Linked DNA regions of Homo sapiens. The protein of the gene in region 5 purifies or fractionates together with the protein of the main gene of each other region. This does not show direct contact. Each region holds a gene or a part of one and is shown on either strand. Other genes may lie near its edges.

The links.
Region 1: the proteins of WASF3 (region 5) and SUPV3L1 purify together in Homo sapiens (affinity purification with mass spectrometry; one large-scale study listed by BioGRID and IntAct). This does not show direct contact.
Region 2: the proteins of WASF3 (region 5) and CD47 purify together in Homo sapiens (affinity purification with mass spectrometry; one large-scale study listed by BioGRID and IntAct). This does not show direct contact.
Region 3: the proteins of WASF3 (region 5) and GTF2IRD1 purify together in Homo sapiens (affinity purification with mass spectrometry; one large-scale study listed by BioGRID and IntAct). This does not show direct contact.
Region 4: the proteins of WASF3 (region 5) and CPNE7 purify together in Homo sapiens (affinity purification with mass spectrometry; one large-scale study listed by BioGRID and IntAct). This does not show direct contact.
Region 6: the proteins of WASF3 (region 5) and EPS8L2 purify together in Homo sapiens (affinity purification with mass spectrometry; one large-scale study listed by BioGRID and IntAct). This does not show direct contact.
Region 7: the proteins of WASF3 (region 5) and WDR33 purify together in Homo sapiens (affinity purification with mass spectrometry; one large-scale study listed by BioGRID and IntAct). This does not show direct contact.

The regions. Positions count from the first base shown.
Region 1 is NC_000010.11:69,204,234-69,206,913, forward strand, and holds part of SUPV3L1 (ATP-dependent RNA helicase SUPV3L1, mitochondrial), read left to right. Parts: intron 1-2,680. UniProt on the Homo sapiens protein: Major helicase player in mitochondrial RNA metabolism. Component of the mitochondrial degradosome (mtEXO) complex, that degrades 3' overhang double-stranded RNA with a 3'-to-5' directionality in an ATP-dependent manner.
Region 2 is NC_000003.12:108,053,032-108,056,531, reverse strand, and holds part of CD47 (leukocyte surface antigen CD47 isoform 1 precursor), read left to right. Parts: intron 1-965; exon of another isoform or gene 966-1,012; intron 1,013-2,183; exon of another isoform or gene 2,184-2,279; intron 2,280-3,500. UniProt on the Homo sapiens protein: Adhesive protein that mediates cell-to-cell interactions. Acts as a receptor for thrombospondin THBS1 and as modulator of integrin signaling through the activation of heterotrimeric G proteins.
Region 3 is NC_000007.14:74,516,406-74,519,905, reverse strand, and holds part of GTF2IRD1 (general transcription factor II-I repeat domain-containing protein 1), read right to left. Parts: intron 1,768-3,500; coding exon 1,584-1,767; intron 498-1,583; coding exon 187-497; intron 1-186. UniProt on the Homo sapiens protein: May be a transcription regulator involved in cell-cycle progression and skeletal muscle differentiation. May repress GTF2I transcriptional functions, by preventing its nuclear residency, or by inhibiting its transcriptional activation.
Region 4 is NC_000016.10:89,585,758-89,589,257, forward strand, and holds part of CPNE7 (copine-7), read left to right. Parts: coding exon 1-28; intron 29-912; coding exon 913-999; intron 1,000-1,285; coding exon 1,286-1,345; intron 1,346-1,798; coding exon of another isoform or gene 1,799-1,837; exon of another isoform or gene 1,838-2,917; coding exon 2,918-3,051; intron 3,052-3,500. UniProt on the Homo sapiens protein: Calcium-dependent phospholipid-binding protein that may play a role in calcium-mediated intracellular processes.
Region 5 is NC_000013.11:26,686,683-26,689,448, forward strand, and holds the end of WASF3 (actin-binding protein WASF3), read left to right. Parts: 3' UTR 1-2,266; downstream 2,267-2,766. UniProt on the Homo sapiens protein: Downstream effector molecules involved in the transmission of signals from tyrosine kinase receptors and small GTPases to the actin cytoskeleton. Plays a role in the regulation of cell morphology and cytoskeletal organization.
Region 6 is NC_000011.10:712,731-716,230, forward strand, and holds part of EPS8L2 (epidermal growth factor receptor kinase substrate 8-like protein 2), read left to right. Parts: intron 1-3,500. UniProt on the Homo sapiens protein: Stimulates guanine exchange activity of SOS1. May play a role in membrane ruffling and remodeling of the actin cytoskeleton. In the cochlea, is required for stereocilia maintenance in adult hair cells.
Region 7 is NC_000002.12:127,706,672-127,710,171, reverse strand, and holds part of WDR33 (pre-mRNA 3' end processing protein WDR33), read left to right. Parts: intron 1-315; coding exon 316-479; intron 480-589; coding exon 590-682; intron 683-1,279; coding exon 1,280-1,495; intron 1,496-3,500. UniProt on the Homo sapiens protein: Essential for both cleavage and polyadenylation of pre-mRNA 3' ends.

The DNA.
Region 1 (2,680 bases), on a different chromosome or scaffold from region 5:
ATAACATGTTCTCTCACCTCCCGCCCTATTTCCTCTGCTTTGCATGCTCTCCCCACCCCACTAAACCCAAAGGCCTCCTCTTCTCTGAATCTTGTCCTGACTCACTGAGGTTCACTGCCATTTCCTCTGTAGGCCTGAGCATTCTACATATGAGCTATATTCTAATCAAATCTAGCTCTAAACTTATTTTTTAAATAACATAAATAGTCCAGTGCTGTGGCTCATGCCTGTAATCCCAGCACTTTGGGAGGCAGGAAGGATTGCTTAAGCCTAGGAGTTCGAGAACATCTCCAGCAACATAGCAAGACTCTGCCCTTTAAAAAAAAAATTACATAAATAATACATACATTCTCTTTATACAAAATGAGAACATTACAGATAGCTTAAATGTGGCTCCCTCCCCAATCTTAGTCCTCTGAAATAACTACTTGTGTAAGTTTGTGTGTATCTTTGCAGACTGTTTTTCATTGCGTTTGCCTATGTGCATGTTCATGTGGAAACACTAGATTTGTTGTGAGGGTGCATTTCCCCATAAAAAATTATCTTTTTTTTTTTTTTGAGACAGAGTCTCACTCTGTCGCTGAGGCTGGAGTACAGTTGTGTCATCTCAGCTCACTGCAACCTCTGCCTCCTGGGTTCAAGCGATTCTCGTGCCTCAGCCTCCTGAGTATCTGGGATTACAGGCATGTGCCATGCCTGGCTAATTTTTGTATATTTTGTAGAGGCAGGGTTTCGCCATGTTCCCCAGGCTGGTCACGAACTCCTGAGCTCAAGCAGTCCACCTGCCTCAGCCTCCCAAAGTGCTAGGATTACAGGCATGAGCCATTGTGCCCAGCCCTATCAACGTTATCTTAATGAATTACTCACAACTTGCCTTTTCTTTTTCTCTTAATAATATGTGTTAGAGATCTTCCATGTCCAGATGTTTACCTAGAAAATATGTTTCTTAGAGCTGGCATTTGTGAAAAACTTAGCTAGCATAAGGTTGAAGTTTATGGAACAGTCTTGAACTGCTGTAAACTGACCTGAGTGGAACTCAGTCCCATGGCCTTGGCACCATTCACACCATCCTTTAAACAGCTATTCTAGTGAATAGAAGCTCTTTACTAAGGTGTAGGGAGTCTCTGGAACATGCAGGTCAACAGTTGCTTGTTTTCTTAAGATAAGGTCTCACTATGTTGCCCAGGCTGCAGTGCAGTGGCACAATCATAGCTCACTGTAACCCCAAACTCCTGGGCTCAGGCGATCCTTCCACCTCAGCCTCCTGAGTAGCTAGGACTACAGGTGTGCGCCATGATGCGTGGTGTGTTTTCTTTTTGAGATGAAGTCTCACTCTGTTGCCCAAGCTGGAGTGCAGTGGTATGAGCTTGGCTCACTGCAACCTCCGCCTCCCAGGTTCAGGCGATTCTCCTGTCTCAGCCTCCCGAGTAGCTGGGATTACAGGTGCCCGCCACCATGCCTGGCTAATTTTTTGTATTTTTAGTAGAGATGGGGTTTCACCATGTTGGCCAGGCTGGTCTCAAACTCCTGACCTCAAGTGATCCACCCGCCTTGGCCTCCCAAAGTGCAGGGATTACAGGCATGAGCCACCACACCCGGCCGCTCCGTGTGTTTTCTGTTTAAAAATTAGAATATGAAATCTAGAGGCTTTTCCTTTTTTCCTGATCTTTGTCATTACTGAACTATGAAAGAGCTCAATCACATTAATGACTTAGGATGCCCCTTAGGACTGTGATTTGGAAGCTGTGCTCCATGGAGCTCCTTTAGGGCCAGCTGCTGGATGGATGGATGGATGGATGGATGGATGGGCGGGCATCTCTCCCTGCTCTCTCTGCATAGCTCCTTACTTAGCTCTTTTATGTATTGGGCTTCCACTAGTTGTTTGTGGCCAAAAAAAATAGAGCCACTGCCTTTATAAGATAACTTGAGAACTCATGCTTGGCCTGTCCTGCCTAGCAGGTAGTGTGGTCACATTTCTACCCTTTATGGCTATCCTACTTGGCATTTATTAAACTTAGCAGAGTGGACCAGACTGAATTTAACAAAATTGTGGCATTATTTAACTACAATTGATCTAAAACTGCTCTTCCTCTCTGAAGTATTAACCTTGCTTAGGTTAAGCATTTAGAGATAATTTCCCCTAATCAGGAAATGAATCATTTGAAATCAGCTTGAATCTTGAAGCTGAAGATTTTATTTAAACTCTTGCTTGAGGGGTCTTACTGTGTGGTTGTATGTCTATCTTCTGTAGTACAGGTGATGTATAATATTGCCTAATTCTGGGATGCAACATGGTTTTGAAAGCACATTCCCCAGCAGTGTCTTGTGGTTCAAGACAGGGCTGTGATGTCTCACGTTACCAGTGAGGAAGCTGAAGCAAAGAGTGTTGACTTGGCCAAAGCCACACAGCTCGCAGGAGGCAGATCCAAGATTGACTTCTGACCAGCCTTGCACCAGGCCACCTCAGAGGGTTTCTATATAATAAGGGAGGACAGCCAGGTGCGGTGGCTCACGCCTGTAATCCCAGCACTTTGGGAGGCCGAGGCGGGTGGATCACAAGGTCGGGAGTTTGAGACCAGCCTGACCAACATGATGAAACCCCGTCTGCACTAAAAATACAAAAATTAGCTGGGTGTTGTGGCGGGCGCCTGTAATCCCAGCTACTCAGGAGGTTGAGGCA
Region 2 (3,500 bases), on a different chromosome or scaffold from region 5:
TATGTGTTTCTAAAACTTAATACGAAACTTGAATTGTTATAGTCAAATAATTTCTCATATGACTCACATAATAGTTTCAAAAAACTTTTACCTTTATTTCTGAACTTTGGTTCTTGATGATTGTTAATTGAATTCAATTCTGTCATATATTCTGTGTCTTTCTTTAATTAATGCTTATTAGATAAATAATTAAAATACTTAACTAAAATCTGCGTATCCTTAGCATATGAGTTCATAAGTCTTAGTTGTTGCTCAATGAAATTTTCTAATTTTATACCACATAATGCCATAAAATACAATGGAGACATCTAAAGCAGAATGGAATTCATGTGGTAGCTACAGTGAACATCTTGAATGTTGGTGCATATTCTATTTTTGTTACATCTTCCAATCACCATGTGTCTGGTTCTGGAAGATGACACTCCTGGTTTTGTTGCTCCCCACAAATGCCTGAGAATAGTGTGTGATTTGCAGTATCCATACAACTCTGGTGAAGTAGTATGAGATACCTTTGGCTGACGGGCAGCACGCTCTTATTTTTTCCTCACTATCTGGGTTGTCCTCCCTTTTACTCCCATGCCACCCCATGCCTTCCATATCTAGCATAGAATGATCTTCAGTACAGTTGCCAGCAGGTCTGGTGACAATGTCTCAAGTGGAACTAAGCATTGTCTATCTGCCACCTCCTTAACTTCACTCTCCTGCCTTCTCCATCACTTACGTTCCTCCAAGCCTGTGAAACCACTGTACTGTACCTGTCACTGTTCTGACATTAAAATTAAAATGACTTAAATCTTGACAAGTACCCCAAATTATTTTTTCTTTGTCATAGGTTAGCATATAAGTATACTATATGCTAAAATTTATGCTATATGTTTAAAATTTAGTGCAATTTTATTGATAGTGTCCTAATTTTATTGATAGTATCCTAAATTAACTTTTTAAATCAACTTGTCTGATGCCAGGGTTCAGAGGGACACCTACAGTCAGTTGAAAGGCAAGAAGAGACAAGGTACAGGAAAGTTGCTCTTTAGATAACATGGTAGACTAGGAGGAACATTAATATGGTTTGCTTATATAATCTGACTGTGTAAATCTGAATCTATGTAACATTAAGGTTGCAAATTTGAGCGTTTATATTAGGAAGTTAAAATTTTAAGTGTCTCCAAAATAATTTTTACTCATTGCACGTGTTCTGTTTTAGAAAAGCCTAATGATTGTGTTTTGATTTAAATGCAATAAAATCCTCAAATAGTTAAAAATCCAAGCTTTCTCTTCAAGAAGAAGTTAATGTCGCTATGAGATTTTTAACTTTTATAATTTTTATTATTTCCAACTTTAAATTTGTAGCCTTAATTTGCTATTTTAAAGAGTAGGCCTTTCACTTTCTACAACTTTCTGTGAAAGTGACTTTCACTTTCTATTTTTTAACTTTTTAAACTGTGTTGTATTTTTTTTCTTTTATTGGAAGCATTTTAATTTTATAAGATGAGAAAAAGGACTGGGCACAATAACTTAATGTGAAAGCATAGAAAAGATTACAAGAACCTAACCAAACTCACTAAAGTTGGGCTTGTTGTTTGTAGAGAACGTTTATATAATTATAAGGATCAATACTTTCTCATTTTTAAAGCCATTACCAGTTAGTTCAATATAAGGGCATATAGTGTTTTGATACAAATCAATCTGGTAGCAGTAAGTACCATATTTACCACAACATCCCAGATATTTTAGAATGATGCAGATGCAGAATATATACGTAGAATTTATATCTATGTATAGATACAAATTCAGATATTTTCTTGTTCAATTTAAGGAGAGGTAAATTTGGTATCAATAGAAAAAATGTTTCTGAAAAATTTAAACCCTGGAAATGTATTTATGGCATGGAGTCAGATGTTTCAGGGAGAGAAGAACAAATCAAGAAGCATTGCAAGTATGCTCATATGGAATGCTTAAGGCTTGTGGTTAAAAAATATATATATATGGCTGTCAATGTCTTAGGCTCATGGTAGCAGCAGAAATCGTAATAATTCTTTTGTCACATGGGTTATATCCATATTGGAGAGAATTAACTCAGGTGAAATTAACTTGTACACTGTTTGGTTTTATAATATTTAGAGGGATCACAACTGACTGATGTCCCTTTGAAGTACCATTCTTCATAAATCTTTTTTTTTCAGAATGGGCCAGCCAACTGTGACATCCCTTGGATCGGAGATTTAGAACTAGAAAGTATTCTTTCTACATTATTAGGGAAGAAAAGGAGTTACTTGGCGGTTAGCAATATTCTATTTTGTTTTGTTTTGTTTTTAGAGACAGGGTCTCATTATGTTGACCAGGCTGGCCTCGAGCTCCTGGGCTCAAGCAATGCTCCCACCTCAGCCTCCCAAGTAGCTGGGACTACAGGCATGTGCCACTACACCTGGCAGTGTTTATTCTGATAAATACATTTATGAGCTCAAAAATGTAACTCTAAAACCTTATCTCTGAACTTCCATATTACCATCAGAAATTTAGATAGTTGTTTAGTTCTCTTTTTCTTTGTAGAACATAGATATAAGGCATGGTTTCATTGAAGTCAGTTGTATATACATGTAACTATCCTGATGTTCCCAAATAAAGCTCTGTATTTCTGCTTAGTTTATTGGGGAGGCTGCTAAATGTAGTGCATCCCAACCCATTTTACCCTGTTCTACTTTAAAAAGAGGTTGGCTTCTTGTTTGGATACAAGGACCAAGTCACTCCCCCAGGTTCCTCCACAGTAAGGGAGGCCTATTTAAAGCCGCCCATGGCACTAACAGAAACTGGACTCCTATGAGCTCAGATACATAACTGGGCCTCACAGGGGTGGGACAGTATGTAGTCTAGGAATTGGAAGGATCCATTCCATATCAAAGAACTGAAGCATCGTGTTGCCCTCTCAGCAGCAAGAGTAAGGTGATGCCCCTGTCAGTTATAGTTCCTGAGTTCCTCTGTCTTTGATTCTTTGCCTATTAGCCAGCTAGCTCACCCTCTTGTTTATGCCACTGTTTTTTATCCTATTCATGCCTTCTCACAGACAACTTTTCTTACCTACAGCTTTGGACTCATCCTTGTCTCCTTTCTGTTTCTTTTTCACTTTCCCTTCCCATCACCAACTTTCTGGGTTTTTTTCTGTTTCTTCTTAGAGTCCAGTGGCAGGGAGAAACTTGTCAGTCCAGTCTGTTGCCATTTTTCCTGTTTGAGAAAGACTCACCAGCTTTTGGCTGGCTCACAGATTGGCTTTCCTTGGGTCAGGACCCACCCTTTTCCCTGCCAGCTTTGGAAGCTTGACAGAATTCGAGTGTGCAGTGGTGGTAAATAAATAGTAAGGAACACAGAGCAGTCCTGGAGGCGTGCCTCCATCTGCTGATGAGAAAATCCAGTGCTGTCATCCAGCCCAGGTCCCAGCGGAATGGGCCTCTCTGTTCAGTAGGATCCCCCTCCTGCTGAGTGGTTCATGGCATGTTTCTGTTCAA
Region 3 (3,500 bases), on a different chromosome or scaffold from region 5:
CAGAGACCCAAGGTCCAAGGGGGTCTCAGCCAGGACACCATCTGTCCAGTCCCACTCCCATGCCCAGACATGGCTCCTTCCAACCTAAGAGGGCCCAGGCATCCTGACCTGCCCTGGGAGGCTGTCCCCTGCATGAGTGACCTCTGTCCCACCCCCTAGACTTGGAGATCCCAGCAGCAATGTTACCACAACAGTCGGAGAAGTCTTGGGCACCGGTGGCCTTGGGCTCTGGCATGGGCCGACTCAGGCCCAGGTCGCTGGGGGCAAGGGGGCAGGAAGGTGCTTCCTGCTTGAGCTCTCGGATGGCGTGGTTGGGGAGCGCCGTGCTGTACAGGAAGCTGGCCATGGAGGAGGAGGTGGCGGTTGGGGGCAGGTCCTGGGGTGGCACCTTGGGGGCCTGGCCATGCAGGCCACAGTCCCGTGACCCCTTGGGAATCAGGGAGACACCGTTCAGCTCCACCAGGGCCTTCGAGTCCCGCCCGCCATCCTCAAGTGGCCTGAGTAAAGGAGAGGACACATGGACAGCTTTGTACATCTGTTTCACACATTGCAGCTCTTCCCCCGAAAACCCCGCATCCCTGCCCTCTGCAGAACATAACAGCCCCATGAGGAGGGCAGGACAGGAGCTGCTCTTCCACTTCACAAGTGGGGATGCAGGCTCGGAGGTGGGAATGGTGTGCCCAGGGCCACAGAGCTAGGCCACCGGAGGACCTGGGCCCTGCCCCTCTGCTCCAATCCACTGTTCAGATCCCGCCAGGTGCGGTTGATTGCCTCCTGTCTCCTGCTGCACCCCTCCCCTTCCTGCCTCTGCATTGCCTGGGGCACTTAGCAGAGATGGGTTCAACCTTAAGCCCTCAGGCTGCCTTCTTGGCTCTCCTGACAACTGGTACTGCCTCAGACCAGCCTCAACAACCTAATCTCCCCTGGATCCCTAATTAACCCCAGATTTACAACCTGAGCAAGCACAGGACATGGTTCTCCCGTTTCTGACACCTAAAATGCCATATTTTTTTTTTAAGAGATGGGGTCTTGCTCTGTTGCCCATGCTGGAGTGCAGTGACGCAATCACAGCTCACTGCATCCTCAAACTCCTGGGCTCAAGCAAGCCTCCTGCCTCAGCCTCCTGAACAGCTGAGATGACAGGTGTGCACCACCACACCTGGGTAATTTTTTTTATTTTTATTTTTTGGCAGAGACAGGGTCTTGGTATGTTGCCCAGGCTGGTCTTGAACTCCTGGCCTCAAGTGATCCTCCCACCTCAGCCTCCCAAAGTGCTGAGATTACAGGCATGAGCTACTGTACCCGACCACTTTGGTGCTATTTTGTCCCAAGTCATGTCTCTTCAAGTCTCTCTGCAATGCAACTTCCCTGGGAAGACTTCAAGGCTTAATGACCTGGCTCAGATCCTGTTCTATGACTTCGCTTTCACTTCACCTCCACCATCAGACTGGGAGCTTTCACCACCAGGGTCCCCCACGGGCATCTCAAGTCCCTTCCCCTCTGGCTAAGTGGCCTCCAGCCCCCGGCCCTGACCCGGCCCTGGCCCAGCCCCAGCCCAGCCCCGGGCCGGCTACCTCACTCACCTCTTGAGCTTGAAGCGGATGCGGTGGCTGTGTTCCAGGATGGCCATGAGGGCCTTGGGGTCATACTCGGCTGGCCTTCGGAAGGCCAGGCCTTCGGGCAGCCCCTGCACGGCCAGCAGCCCTGGCTCCCTGAGCAGCCTCTCATAGGGCAGTGGCACCACACTGGCCCTTCCCAGGGCCTCGCCTGTAGGGGAGAGTCCAGGAGAGGGGCCTGGTATGAGAGGGCAGCCAGGCTGGGGTCGGGGCTGCTGTGCCCCAGAGTGGGGGCAGTGCTGAGTGGCTCCCCTTGGTGCGGGGTTCCCATGGACCCCTCATAACTGCAGACTTTGTGCAGAATAACCGCCTGCAGGCTGGGGGTGGGTGGTGTGGACAAGGCCCAATTGTCTGCATCTGGGGGGCTGGGGCTCCCCCACCAAGCAGGTTCCCTGCTGCCCTCCCCGACCAAGCCCCTCTCCACTCTGGGCACCTGGCTGGAGGGGAAATCGGGGACTCAAGGGCCCAGAGGACAGAGCAGAGGCAGACAATCCGGTAGGAGAAAAGAGGGCAGAAGAGACGGAGAAGTGGGGACTTGCATGAGCCAGGCTGCAAGGAAAAAGCTATAAGGGCTGGGCGTGGTGGCTCACGCCTGTCATCCCAGCATTTTGGGAGGCTGAGGAGGGAGGATCACTTGAGGCCAGGAGTTCGAGACCAGCCTGGCCAACATGATGAAACCCCGTCTCTACTAAAAATACAAAAATTAGCTGGGTGTGGTGGTGCATGCCTGTAATCCCAGCTACTTGGGAGGCTGAGGCAGGAGAATCGCTTGAACCCGGGAGGTGGGTTGCAGTGAGCCGCTGCACTCCAGCCTGGGTAACAGAACGAGAATCCATCTCAAAAAAAAAAAAAAAAAAAAAAAGGTGTAGGGAGGAAGGGAGAGAGACCGAGAGGGGGGAGAGAAAGTAAGAAGAAGAGGAAGTGGAGAGGGAGCAAAAATAGGGGATTGAGAAAAAGATGGGAGAGGCTGGGCGTGGTGGCTCACGCCTGTAATCCCAGCACTTTGGGATTACCGAGGCAGGTGGATCACTTGAGGTCAGGAGTTTGAGACCAGCCTGGCCAACATGGTGAAACCCCGTCTCTACTAAAAATATAAAAATTATCCAGGTGTGGTGGCAGGTGCCTGTAATCCCAGCTACTCAGGAGGCTGAGGCAGGAGAATTGCTTGAACCCAGGAGGGGGAGGTTGTAATGAGCCGAGATCATGCCATTGCACTCCAGCCTGGGCAACAGAGTGAAACTTCATCTCAAAACAACAACAACAACAACAACAACAACAACAACAACAAAGACAGGAGAGAGGAGAAAGAGACAGACTGAGAAGACGCAGGAACAAAGATGGGGGCTCGGGGGCACAGAGGAGGGGAGGCAGGCTGGGGACTGAGGACTGGGCACTGGGATATCTGTTGTCACCTCCATGCTACAGCCCCCACCCTGAGCCAGAAAGAGGCCCATCCTCTCATAGCCTCCTTGAATTCTGCCCAAAGTGGACAAGGGGGGCCAGGGCAAGGCGGGCAGGGGCGCGGGGCCCTGCAGCTGGCAAAAGTGTCGACAGAGGCACAGCCAACCATGCGTGGCAAGTCCCCCATCCCAGGGTGGCCAGTGTGACCACCCAGGGCCTCTGGGTACCCCTCCTTCTGACATAAGAACAGCAGAAGTTTCCTCACAGACCTTTGCTCCATAAAACCAAAGGCTACAGTAGGAGAAGGGATAAAGCCAAATCAGAAATGAATGAGGTGGGACCCTGAGCACCAAAGGGACCTGCCCGATGTTTCCCAGGGCGTGTGAAGACCACCACTGGGGCCCTGAGGCCCTCTGCAACCTGACGCTTCCCAAGGGAGGCCAGGTCTCCTCTTCCTGCAGGAAAGACATGGCTGAGCAATCA
Region 4 (3,500 bases), on a different chromosome or scaffold from region 5:
GATGCAGAAGGCCTTTGAGGAGGGGCAGGTGAGCAGGACGGGGTAGGGGGTCCTCCAGGGAGGGTCAGGTGGGGGTGGAGGGGGGCCTTCGGGGAGGGGTAGGTGAGCAGGACTGGGGGGGTACCTCCAGGAAGTGTCAGGTGAGGAGGTGGGGGGTGGGGTAGGGGCCTCCGTGGAGGGGCATGTGGGTGGGCACCTCTGGGGAGGAGCAGGTTGGGGGGGCCTTTGGGGAGGTTCAGGTGAGGGGGGCCTCCAGGGAGGGGCAGTTAGCAGGGGGAGGGGGCATTCAGGGAGGGGCAGGTGAGGGGGGCCTCTGGGGAGGGGCAGGTGAGTCGGGGGCACACCTGGGCTACGCCTGTGTTGGCCCTGCCACAGAGGCTGTGAAACCCTGTCCCACTGTCCTGATGGGGTTGTGGGGAGTGGTGACAATGACTTGTTATAACCAGAGAAGGCTGAGGATGGTGGACCCTGGTGCTGGCTCCTGAGGGGTCATAGCAGGGGTGGCCCCCATCAGGTTCAGCTGGACATTTCAGGCACCATCTGGGTCTGGGCACAGGGGTGGTGGGAGGTGGGGCCAAGGGGTGCCCTCCCCTGTGTCTGCCCAGCCCACAGCAGCCGGGTGAGGGTGCAGTGGGGAGGCCACCCTGGGCCCTGCTTCCTCCCCCGTCCCTGGGCCTCAGTGTCCTTGGGCTTAATGACAGGGCCATGCCGGGTGGGGGATGCAACTCCCATCCCTCTTCATTCCCGTATGACCCACTCTGCCCCTTCCTGCTGCCCTGCAGCAGTGCCCTCCCCTCCCCTCCCCACCACGGGGCCCTCTGCCGTCGCTATTGGGGATGGTCTTGGGTAGGGTCTCCCTGGTAGGTGTTCAGAGCCACCACTCTGGGGGGCCTCTGCTTGTTCCTGCCCCAGGCCCAGTGGGACTGTGTGAACCCCAAATACAAGCAGAAGAGACGCAGTTATAAGAACTCAGGAGTGGTCGTCCTGGCTGACCTCAAGGTGAGAGGTGGCTGTGCCCGAAGCCTCCCCACCCACAAGAGGGGCTTCCGCTGCCTCCCTCTGATTGTTGGATGGACCCTCAACCAGAGGCCTGGTGGGCCCCAGCACGTCTGGGGAGGGGCTGAGAGACGGGGAAGGGCGAGGTTGGGGAGAGAGGATGGGGGAGAGGAGAGGAGGGTGGCACCCCAGAGGGACTGGGCTGCCTGCGGGAGGCAGGCCTGGATCCCAGCTGGCACTGGCCTCAGTGTCCCTGGCGGGGGTGGACGCTGACTCCGCCGGCCGGAAGTTCCACAGGGTGTACTCCTTCCTGGACTATATCATGGGCGGCTGCCAGATCCACTTCACCGTGAGTCCATGGCCCCGCCCCATGCCGCCCCCTCAGTCCGTGGCCCCGCCCCGCCCCGCCCCCTCAGTCCGTGGCCCCGCCCCTCCCCGCCCCCTCAGTCTGTGGCCCCGCCCATCCCCGCCCCCTCAGTCCGTGGCCCCGCCCCTCCCGCCCCCTCAGTCTGTGGCCCCGCCCATCCCCGCCCCCTCAGTCTGTGGCCCCGCCCATCCCCGCCCCCTCAGTCCGTGGCCCCGCCCCCGCCCCCGCCCCCGCCCCGCTCCCGAGGGGTCCCAGCCTGGCGGGTGAAAGGGCACTGGCGGTTCCCCGTGAGCCGATGTCTCCATGCGCGGCTCCTGGGGGTCCTCCCTTTTGCGCAGGCGAGGAAACGGGCTTGGGGTTCAGGAAGCAGCCCCAAGCCCGCCTTGGGAGGTGACATCACCAGGGCTTACCTTCCACAAACACATTTAACAACAGACAAAACGTGAACGAGGAGAAACTGGAGTGAGCGTTTGAGTGAACCAGCCACAGTCTCTACGTGTCATCCAAGGAGCCCGGCACAGACCCCGTGTCACCCCCATGTCACCCGCAGACCCCGCGTCACCCATAGATACGCACACCCCGTGTCACCCCCATAGCACCCCCGTGTCACCCACAGATACACGGCCCCCGTGTCACCCGCGTGTCACCCACAGAAACACGGCCCCCGTGTCACCCACAGATACACGGCCCCCCGTGTCACCCGCGTGTCACCCACAGATACACGGCCCCCGTGTTACCCACAGATACACGGCCCCCCGTGTCACCCGCGTGTCACCCACAGATACACGGCCCCCGTGTCACCCGCGTGTCACCCACAGATACACGGCCCCCCGTGTTACCCACAGATACACGGCCCCCGTGTCACCCACAGATACACGGCCCCCCGTGTTACCCACAGATACACGGCCCCCCGTGTCACCCGCGTGTCACCCACAGATACACGGCCCCCCGTGTTACCCACAGATACACGGCCCCCGTGTCACCCACAGATACACGGCCCCCGTGTCACCCGCGTGTCACCCACAGATACACGGCCCCCGTGTCACCCGCGTGTCACCCACAGATACACGGCCCCCGTGTCACCCGCGTGTCACCCACAGATACACGGCCCCCGTGTCACCCGCGTGTTATTTGCAGATGCGCTGGTTCGTGTTTTGTTGAACGAGCCCCAGAATGGCTTTGGGAGAAGCCAGCAAGTGGGAAACGTGGGGGGACCCAGACCAGGCTTGGTCCACTTAGGCCCTGCCGGGGAGGGTGGTAGAGGGGTTGGGCGGCCACTAAGAAGGATGGGCGGGGCCCCCACAAGGCCAGGGTGATCCTGGTGGGGTGTCCTCCCGGAGATCCAGGGAGCCTAGGGGCTGGCAGGTTTTGAGGAGACCTCTCCTGGCCCTGTGTAGCAGGTGGGTCAGCCCCAACAGCAGCCCCCCAGCCCTACCCACCTACGCGACCCCTGACCCTGAGTCCTGGCCACTCTGGGCGTGGTTTCTCTACCTGTCAGGAGCGGGTTCGGGGAGCCCCGGCCCAGCACAGCTCCTGGCTCCCGGCCCACTGCAGGTGGCCATTGACTTCACCGCCTCCAATGGAGACCCGCGGAACAGCTGCTCCCTGCACTACATCAACCCCTACCAGCCGAACGAGTACCTGAAGGCACTGGTGTCCGTGGGCGAGATCTGCCAGGACTATGACAGGTGCGCCCACCACCTTCCCCTCACCCCCTGGTCTCCAGGTCAGCTATGACAGGTGCGCCTGGCCGTCTTCCCCCTCACCCCCCTGGTCTCCAGGTCAGCTATGACAGGTGCACCCGGCCGGTTTTCCCTCACCCCCCTGGGCTCCAGGTCAGGCCTCGGGGCACCATGAGGTGGGCACTGTGAGTTTGTCAGACTGTGAGGGGCCGGGCGCGGTAGCTCATGCCTGTAATCCCAGCATTTTGGGAGGCCGAGGCGGGTGGATCACCTGAGGTCAGGAGTTTGAGACCAGCCTGGCCAACATGGTGAAACCCCATCTCTACTGAAAATACAAAAATTAGCTGGGCGTGGTGGCAGATGCCTGTAATCCCAGCTACTCAGGAGGCTGAGGCAGGAGAATCACTGGAACCCGGGAGGCGGAGGTTACAGTGAGTCAAGATCACACCTTTGTA
Region 5 (2,766 bases):
GGGAGCTACACCGCTGAGCTGGGCAGAGCTGCGGCACAGGGCCTGGGCTGCAAAGGAGCCCTGCTCCTTTAGTTTCCTGACACCTGTGTCCTGAGTGAGCCGCAGGAGTTCTTAGCTCCTCAGCGAGCAACAGAGAGCACTTTAGATGGCACCTTTCACCACTTGGTCAGAATTTTAAAAGCTTAGGTTTAGGTGAAAGTAGATATTGACAGCTATTCACCTTTCACGGTGCTGGGGCCAGATTAGGGATCACTCCCGTGAGGAGGGCCTTCACCCTGTTCTAGAAGCACATGGTTGTCCTCCTGTTGTTGGCACATTAAATGATAAAAAGCACCTCATGAGATTCCCTTGATCAGCCCTGCAGCTGTAGTACAGTGCTGTGCCCTCACCTCCACCCTTCCTGTTGTTCCCACGTGGGCAATACCAGGGACCCATGGGGAAACTCAAGAATGACAGCTTCTATATTTTGTAATTCTGGATGAAAGATAACTGTGTTGAACAAACAGGTGCTCCAGGCTTTGATTATAGATACGACTTCAAAAATATGCTAAGACGCTTGACTTATTAAGGACTTTAACCTACTCAACAGTATTTCATATCCATTGTGGTTAGTTACTCAGTTATGTTGAGAAGAATCTGGAGCTAAAAGCAGAGATGTTTGAGGTGACGGTAGGAATGTGAGCAGGATGGTGATGGGGGTTTTTGTTAAAATGCATCTGAGCAAGTCAGCCAGCCCCGAAGTCCCCTCAGTGTGTGTGTCTCGAGTGGCTACCTGTTGGGCTTGTGGGCAGTGATTGTACAGAGCCTGTCCATTGGGTGCAGTCATGTAGATCTGAAGCCCTGAAAAGCCTCATGTCTGCATCCCCTTTCCAAGGCTGCTTCCCTGGTGTGTCTGTTCTCTCCTCTGTCCCAGGTGCTGGGAGCGTCCTCTTCAGCGTCTTTTCCTAGAGCTGGTCACCACTAGGCTGTCACTATAAATTCCTTGAATATAAGTAACAGTTATTAATGAACTTCTAAATTTCTAATTTCTCTCTCTCTCTCTTTTTTTTTTTTTTGTTGTTGTTAAAAAGGGCCTACTACATTGGCGCTATTCTTAGGACTTCTGCAACTTTTAAAGTCTTACTTGTCTTTCTTGTTGCTTTTGTATTAGGAGTTCCCCGTGTGGGTCTAGAACTCCCCTTTGGTAATGCTTCTTTGTTTTTTTATGGCCCTTCTGTTCTCAGGATGGAGAGAACACAGAAGCTACTATCCATGTCAGGATTTATTCTATTTATATCTTATTACAATAAAATTAGTGGCACTTTATTCATAAATATTCATGAGCCTGTTAATTGTTAGTTGTCTTCCTGTAGCTGAATCAACAAGTTATTTTCAACTCAATTTTATGACTTGCGAAAAAGCTTTTGCCCTGTTGTGTACCATAACATTTAAAAGAATGGAAAATGACTGAAATCCAATTTAGATTATTTTTAGAGTATTTTTCCAGCAAATTCAATTTATTCTGAAATTTAAATCCAGATCTTTTCTAATATGGTATTACAATGAAAAGAATAAAGAGAAGATTTGAATTTTCAGTTTCATTTTCAAAAACTATTTACCAAAACAAATGGAGAAGAAACATCCAAAAGCACATTTCATTTCTCCAAACTTTGTGTTTTAAATTATAGTTATAAATTGTAAGGTAATTTTAAATTGTCCCTCGTATTATTTCTCCACGTCTGTTTTAGTTTAATGTCTCCTAAGCTTTTCTCTCATAGCGTAGACCTAGGGAAGGGATGGGAAGATTGCCCAGTCCCCGATGGCTGCGCACACAGGAGGCGGCGGAGCACAAGGCAAGTGAGTTTGCACTGTCAGCCCCAGACCGTAAGCTTGGCTACACTGATGTTTTTCTTTACTAAGGATACTATTCAAAAATTAACATTTTCATCTCAGTAAGTTTTTAGAACATCAAAATGTTTTCTGAGCTCCAAGTGGCTAGGTTGTAAAAGTTTTATAATAATTTGCAATTAAAATACATGATACATATTAATCCATTAAAGACTAGTGGGAATGTATCAGCCAGAGTAGCAAGTAATTTTTGTTTTATAAATCATAGTATCTGTCATCTTGCAGTATTACCAATGCTGTTGTAAATTGAATTTAAAGTGGTATTAAAAAAAACTGTTAAACAATTTTTATCTGTTTGTATATCTTACTATAGATTATGTACAAGTAACATCTAAATAAAATTACACTTTTAACCCTAAGAGGTTTTGCTTATTAATAACAGTGTTGTATGTTTGGCTTTTTTGGAAGAGAACTTGGTGTTAAGTGGTTTTTTGTTTTTGCTTTTGTTTAGCATTTTCCTTATTAGACAACAGAAGACACTACTTTGGTTTCCATTTAAATTTCTACATAATTTTTGTGTCACCAAGAGTTCAGATTGAATTCCTGAATGACTCGGGGCAGCACTAGTCTGGTTAGAAAGAAAAGGCCATGCTGGGAGTAGGGCAGCCACCTGTTGAGAGGATAGAGCCTGGGGCAAGAGGGTCTTAACCACATTTACTCTCAACGGTAAAAGTGAATAACACGCTGTAGTATGTATGTATTGCTTATGAGATGTTTTCATTTAATCCTTACAATAATCCTTAACATTCTGTTTCATATGTGGGAAAACTAGAGTGAAGCTAAGTTACTCTCTCAGGGACCTTGGTCGATAGAAAACTCAGTTCTGGGGCAGAATCACATGTTGGGGTAATGAGAGTCGAGATTGGGTGGGTAAGTGTG
Region 6 (3,500 bases), on a different chromosome or scaffold from region 5:
AGAGCCATCAGGAGTCCCTGAGCTCTTGAATCGGGCTGTTTTGGGTGACCAGGGCCCTCCCAGCAGCCTGGGCAGCTAGACCCTGCATACAGCCAGGCTGGTGACTTCGGCCAGCTCAGTGTCCAGGGGAAGGCACAGAGCAGTGGCCGAGTTCACTTTAGTCCCCTCTTCCTGGGCAGCTCCACCACCTTTCTCAGGGACTCTGCCCTCTTCGGGAGGAGCCTGGGGCCTCTCAGCCTGGCTCCTGGACTTTGGCCCCAGCTGGCCTGGCCTGGCCCCCAGCCAGCAGGAGCCTCGTCTGCCCAGAGGCCAACAGAGTGAGGAGTGGAGGGTGGGTGGGGCTTTCCTGCCTCTCCCCGATGAGGACACTGGGGACCAGAGAGAGGGTGAGAGTCTGGTGGGAAGTCTCTCCAGCCAGGTGGGGGCCGGATCAGATTGGCCCTGACAGTGGGTGGGGGGCACCTGAGCCCGGGTCCATGGTTTGCTTTTTTCTAAGTTATCACACAGTAAAAGCCATGTGTACGTGGGGGTGTGGTTCTGTTGCCACCATAGTCGACCCATCAGCCCCATCACTCCAAACCTGTGAATCCCCGACCTTGGTGGCTACCCCCAACCTCTGGCAACACCTGCCTGCCTTCATCACCACAGTTTCTGTTTGTTTGTGTGTTTGAGACGGAGTCTCGCTCTGTCACCCAGGCTGGAGTGCAATGGCGCGATCTCAGCTCACTGCAACCTCTGCCTCCCAGGTTCAAACCATTCTCCTGCCTCAGCCTCCTGAGTAGCTGGGACTACAGGCGCCCGCCACCACGCCTGGCTAAATTTTTTTTTCTCTGAGACAGAGTCTCACCCTGTCACCTAGGCTGGAGTGCGGTGGCGTGATCTTGGTTCACTGCAACCTCCGCCTCAAGGGTTCAAGTGATTCTCCTGCCTCAGCCTCCCCAGTACCTGGGATTACAGGCACGCACCACCACACCCAGCTAATTTTTTATATCTTTAGCAGAGATGGGGTTTCACCATGTTGGCCAGGCTGGTCTTGAACTCCTGACCTCAATTGATCCACCCACCTCAGCCTCCCAAAGTGGTGGGATTACAGGCGTGAGCCACCGTGCCTGGCCTAATTTTTGTATTTTTAGTACAGATGGGGTTTCACCATGTTGGCCAGGCTGGTCCCCAACGCCTGACCTCAAGTGATCCACCTGTTTTCACTATGTTGGCCAGGCTGGTCCCCAGTGCCTGACCTCAGGTGATCCACCTGCCTCCCAAAGTGCTGGGATGACGGACTGAGTCACTGCGTCCGGCCTCCATCATTGTGGTTTGATAAGTGGAAATTAATTTTTATGATGTCCATTCGTATGTGTTTTTCTTTTATGGTTTAGGGTTTTTGGCATCCTAAGAAGTCATCCTTTGACCAAATTTCTGGAGATTTCTTCCGTGTTTTCTTTTATTTTTTGTAAATTAGGAATTCACTGTGGAAGTTCCTGTGTTTTCTTTTTCTTTTCTTTTTTCTTTTTTTTTTTGAGGTGGAGCTTTGCTGTGTCACCCAGGCTGGGGTGCAGTGGCGTGATCTTGGTTCACTGCAACCTCCACCTCTTGGGTTCAAGCAATTCTCCTGCCTCAGCCTCCTGAGTATCTGGGATTACAGGAATCCATCACCATGCCCGGCTCATTTTTTGTATTTTCATCAGAGATGGGGTTTCACCATGTTGGCAAGGCTGGTCTCGAACTCCTGATCCCAGGTGATCCACCAGCCTTAGCCTCCCAAAGTGCTGGGATTACAGGCGTGAGCCGCCGCGCTGGGCCAGTTCCTGTGTTTTCTTTTGGATGCTTCCCAGTGTAGGCTTTTGCGTTTAGGGCCAGGATCCATTTTATTTTATTTTATTTTATTTTATTTATTTTTTTATTTAATTTTTAAATTTTATTTTATATTTATTTTATTTTATTTTATTTTTTTTTGAGACAGTCTCAATGTACTGGACCACACTGATTGACTGTTTTGAATGTTGAACCAGCCTAATCCTCATTTATTCCAAGTGTGTGATCCTTTTTCCTGTGTTGAGGGACTGATGTGGTAATATTGTTGTTAGGGGTATTTTGTGTTGATGTCCATTAGAGGTACTGGTCTGTAATTTTCGTATAATGCCTATGGCAGGTTGTGTGGCAGGGTTATGTTGGTTTTATAAAATGGGTGGGGAAGTATTCCCTCCTCTTCTGTTTTCAGAAAGAGTTTGTGGGCCGGGCGCGGTGGCTCATGCCTGTAATCCCAGCACTTTGGGAGGCTGAGGTGGGCAGATCACAAGGTCAGGAGATCAAGACCATTCTGGCTAACATGGTGAAACCCCGTCTCTACTAAAAATACAAAAAATTAGCCAGGTGGGATGGCGGGTGCCTGTAGTCCCAGCTACTCGGGAGGCTGAGGCAGGAGAATGGCGTGAACCCCGGAGGCGGAGCTTGCAGTAAGCTGAGATTGCGCCACTGCACTCCAGCCTGGGAGACAGAGTGAGACTCTGTCTCAAAAAAAAAAAAAGAGTTTGTGAAAGCTTGTTATTGTTTCTTCCTTAGATATTTGTTAGGATTTGCCAGTGCTGCCCTCGGAGCACAGGATTTTCTTTGTGGGAAGGTTTCGGTTATTAATCCCCTCTCCTGCCTGTAAGATCTGTAGTGATGCCCCCTCTTTTGTTCTGGTTTTTGAGAATTTGTGTTTTCTCTAGTATTTTTCTTGATCAGGCTTGCTAGGGATTTACCAAGTTTATTAACCTTCTCATAACTAACTTTGGGCTCTGTTGATTTGTGTCTGTCAGTAGTCTGTGTAAAGTGCGTTGACCTCCTCTTAATTTTCTACCTTCCACTTACTGTGGGTTTTATTTGATTCACTTTATCTTTTTCTTTTGTTTTTTTTTTTTTTTTTTTTGAAATGGAGTCTTGCTCTGTCGCCCAGGCTGGAGTGCAGTGGCACGATCTTGATTCACTGCAAGCTCCGCCTCCTGGGTTCACGCCATTCTCCTGCCTCAGCCTCCCAAGTAGCTGGGACTACAGGTGCCCACCACCACGCCCAGCTAATTTTTTGTATTTTTAGTAGAGACGGGGTTTCACCGCGTTAGCCAGGATGGTCTCGATCTCATGACCTCACGATCCGCCTGCCTCGGCCTCCTAAAGTGCTGGGATTACAGGCATGAGCCACCGCGCCCGGCATTGATTCACTTTTCCTACCTGCTTAAGGTGAAACCTTAGATTATTTATCTTTTTTTTTTTTTTTTTTTTCTGAGATGGAGTCTCACTCTGTCACCCAGGCTGGAGTGCACTGGTGCAATCTCAGCTCACTGCAACCTCCGCCTCCTGGGTTCAAGCGATTCTCCTGCCTCAGCCTCCCAAGTAGCTGAGGTTACAGGCATGCACCACCATGCCTGGCTAATTTTTGTGTGGGGTTTTTTTTTTTTTTGAGACAGAGTCTCGCTCTGTCACCCAGGCTGGAGTGCAGTGGCACCATCTCAGCTCACAGCAAG
Region 7 (3,500 bases), on a different chromosome or scaffold from region 5:
CTGATAATACCAGCTTCATATGGTGGCTGTGAAAATGAAATGAATGAAATGAAGTAATACTTGTATATACCTAAAAGCCTAAAAGAAGCTTAAAGTAACTCCACACTCTGGTGTGTTTCCTTCTGGTCTGTTTTTGCCTCTGATAGTATTAATAGGATTATATAATGTATCCTTTCAAAAATATATAGTTTTATTTTGTTTTCCTCCCAATTAACATTGTATCATGCTTTCTCATATCATATGCTTCTTTGAAACATGAACTTAGAGTGGCAAGGTGTTCTCTGAGATGGACATTCTGCTGTTTTCTCTTTACAGTTTCAGAAGAGGAGCCCCGCCGAGGCATGAGGGCCGTGCTCCCCCCAGAGGAAGGGATGGTTTTCCTGGTCCTGAAGACTTTGGTCCAGAGGAGAATTTTGATGCTTCTGAGGAAGCGGCCCGAGGACGAGATCTCAGAGGTCGAGGTCGGGGTACCCCACGAGGTGAGCGAGTTACTAAAGACACCTGGTCTGGAAGGATAGGGTGCAGAATACACTGGTTGTGAATACACCAGGAACAGTCTGAGTGCAGCATTGTTTGCTCTGTTGTGTAGGAGGAAGGAAGGGTTTACTTCCCACTCCTGACGAGTTCCCTCGCTTTGAAGGAGGGCGGAAGCCAGATTCCTGGGATGGAAACAGAGAGCCTGGTAAGGAAAAGAACCGCTTGTTGGGTAACTCTAGACTGCAGTTCACAAAGTGAGTTCTGAGGGCCCTCTCTGGGGTGCACCGGGTCTCCTCTTTCCAGCTCATGTCTCCCGGGGGGCTGGGCTGTCTCCTGTCCTGCAGCCGCAGCACTTGATCTCAGCAGGTGGAATGCAGAGCAGAGGAATCCGCCAGACATTACAGGGATCTATCTGAGTATAAAACGGGACTGCTCTTTCCACTAAATTGCTTTTGGAGAATAAAGTTAAGTGAATTAAAATTTCCCCAGTCTCAATTGCTAATATGGTAAATATTCGCAGTTACAACTCTCATTAACAAAATCTCTTAGGAGTCCTCAGTAATTTGAGACTGTAAAGACGTCTTGATACTACAATGCCTGAGAACGAGTTCTCTGGATCTTACCTGCCCCTCTTACATGAGGAGGCACCCTGATGTCTGGGTGGCTTACCCTTTGGCCTCTGGCGGGCATTCAGCATGAGTGAACGGTGGCTCTCGAGTTGCTCCTTACTCTCACAGTGTCATTCCCATCTACTTCTGGTCACACTGTGCTTTCCTGTAAGGAGATTTGTTTCTTGTTTCAGGGCCAGGTCATGAACATTTTCGTGATACTCCCCGCCCTGATCATCCCCCTCACGACGGTCATTCCCCAGCCAGCAGAGAACGCTCCTCTTCTCTCCAAGGCATGGACATGGCATCCCTACCTCCCCGAAAGCGCCCCTGGCATGATGGCCCAGGCACTTCTGAGCACAGAGAGATGGAGGCCCCAGGAGGCCCTTCTGAAGACCGAGGAGGCAAAGGTAAGAGCAGGCCAGTGGTTATGGTTCCAGGAGATGCAGGGGCCGATGGAGGCCTTGCCTGTATCTGCTGCACATGCCCTTGCAGCCTGGGCTGTGCAGAGGCACATGCTCCTAAATGTGGTGCCAGTGCCACACGAGCTGTCATCTGGTGGACTGCAACTCAGCCCTGCACAGGACTCCACTTGCCTCCGGGAATCCCTGTTCACTTGAGGTTTTCACTTCAGCCCTCTGCCAAGATGCCCCAGCACTCTCTGCTCGGCTTGCTGTCTGGGAGCCCTGCTCTCCTTGGCAGTCTGCCCTCCACAAGGCTGCTTGGAACCCTCAAGGGCTCTCAGTGGGAGGGGAAGAGTTGTCCTCTCCTGGGTGGTCTGTTGGTTTTTTTAGCCTGGGTCTAGAGGAACACTGCTTGTGCTCAAAGTCACAGAGACTTTGGGAAACATGGTCTATGGGCAGTGTTTCCAGGGGCACAGTAGATTATCTCCTCAACTGGGAACTGTGGAGCTTTATGTTATAGGCAGCACTAACTTTAGCCAGGAGTAGTTGCCTCTGAAGGCTGACTATACAACTCTGGTTGCAAGGCAGCGGGGGAGGTGCATAGGTGGTGTGGCTCGGAAGCTTCTGGGAAGGCTGCTCCCCGCATGCCCCAGCTTGTGCTCTGCTCCTGAAGTTGGCCTGTCTGTATGGACGGTCCTTCCAGTACAGAGTTCTGCCATTTGGTCTTTTTGGGTTTTTTTCTGTCGCCCAGGCTGGAGTGCAGTGGTGTGATCTTGGCTTACTGCAAGCAACCCCCGCCTCCCAGGTTCAAGTGATTCTTGTGCCTCAGTCTCCCCAGTAGCTGGAACTACAGGTGTGCGCCACCATGCTTTTGTGTTTTTAGAGAGATGGGCTTTTGCCATGTTGGCTAGGCTGGTCTCGAACTCCTGGCCTCAAGTGATCCACCTGCCTTGGCCTCTCATGAGCCACCATGCCTGGCCTGCCATTTGATCTTGATAGTTGTTTGTCTCAACAAAACCCTCAGAAATTACCTTATGTATCATCAATAGATCACCCTGCATAAACACATTGTACTACTAGCCAGTGTGCTGTGACCTTGGCTGACTTTCTTGGGCACTCAGCACACCATTATTAGGTCCCTCTGGTCAAGGACATGCAGTTAGCATGGGAATGATGTAGTAGCTGACACTCTGCCCAGGTGCCTCAGGTGGGTTGAAGCTGCACTTTCTAAGAAAAGAAGCCAAGATTGTTCCTTTGGCTGGCTCTCCTAACTTCATCTCAGCTAGATTCATATTCTATTACAAAATATGAGACAGCGGAGAGTTTGCAGTCATCTTCTGAGAGTGCATTATGGGAGATGTGACCAAATCCTATCATTTCCTGAGGAAAAAAATCTTACAAGATAGAATTTTTTTTCCTTTTCCTTTCTTTTTTTTCTTTTTTTTTTTTTTTTAAATATATTCTCAAGCTGCAACAGAATGAAAGAATTTTAATAGTACCTAAACATTTGTGCATACTAGTCTGAAGCAGGTTAAGCTGTGCCTCGGTGATAGAACCTGAAAGCCAGTGTTTTGTGGGGTTTTTGGGTTTTTGTGCTTTTCTTTTGTTTTTTCAAGAAATACTTTATTTTACTAATTATGAAAAGGAAGCCAAAAGTGCCACATGTCACGGGACAGTCCCAGTGAACGCTTGTCCTAGTTGGAGCACTTTTTATTAACATTAGCAGTGTGTACTTCCAAAGTTAAGTCAGTATATTCAAACCTTCCCTCAATATACCCTGGTGGCTGGGAGCAGGCAGATACACTTCCCATGGCCTGGGACATGGCCCAGTGTGGCCCGGGTCTCCCTGAAGGTGCTCCTTGCTCATCTCTTGGCTTCCTGTCGTCTGTCACACAGCCCTGGGGGCATGGATCTGGCTGATGCTGAGGCCCATGGCCATGAGCCAGGAAGGGGGAGGCAGGGTCAGGAAAGGGTAGAGGCACACCTCTCAGTACGCTGAATACCACTGCCA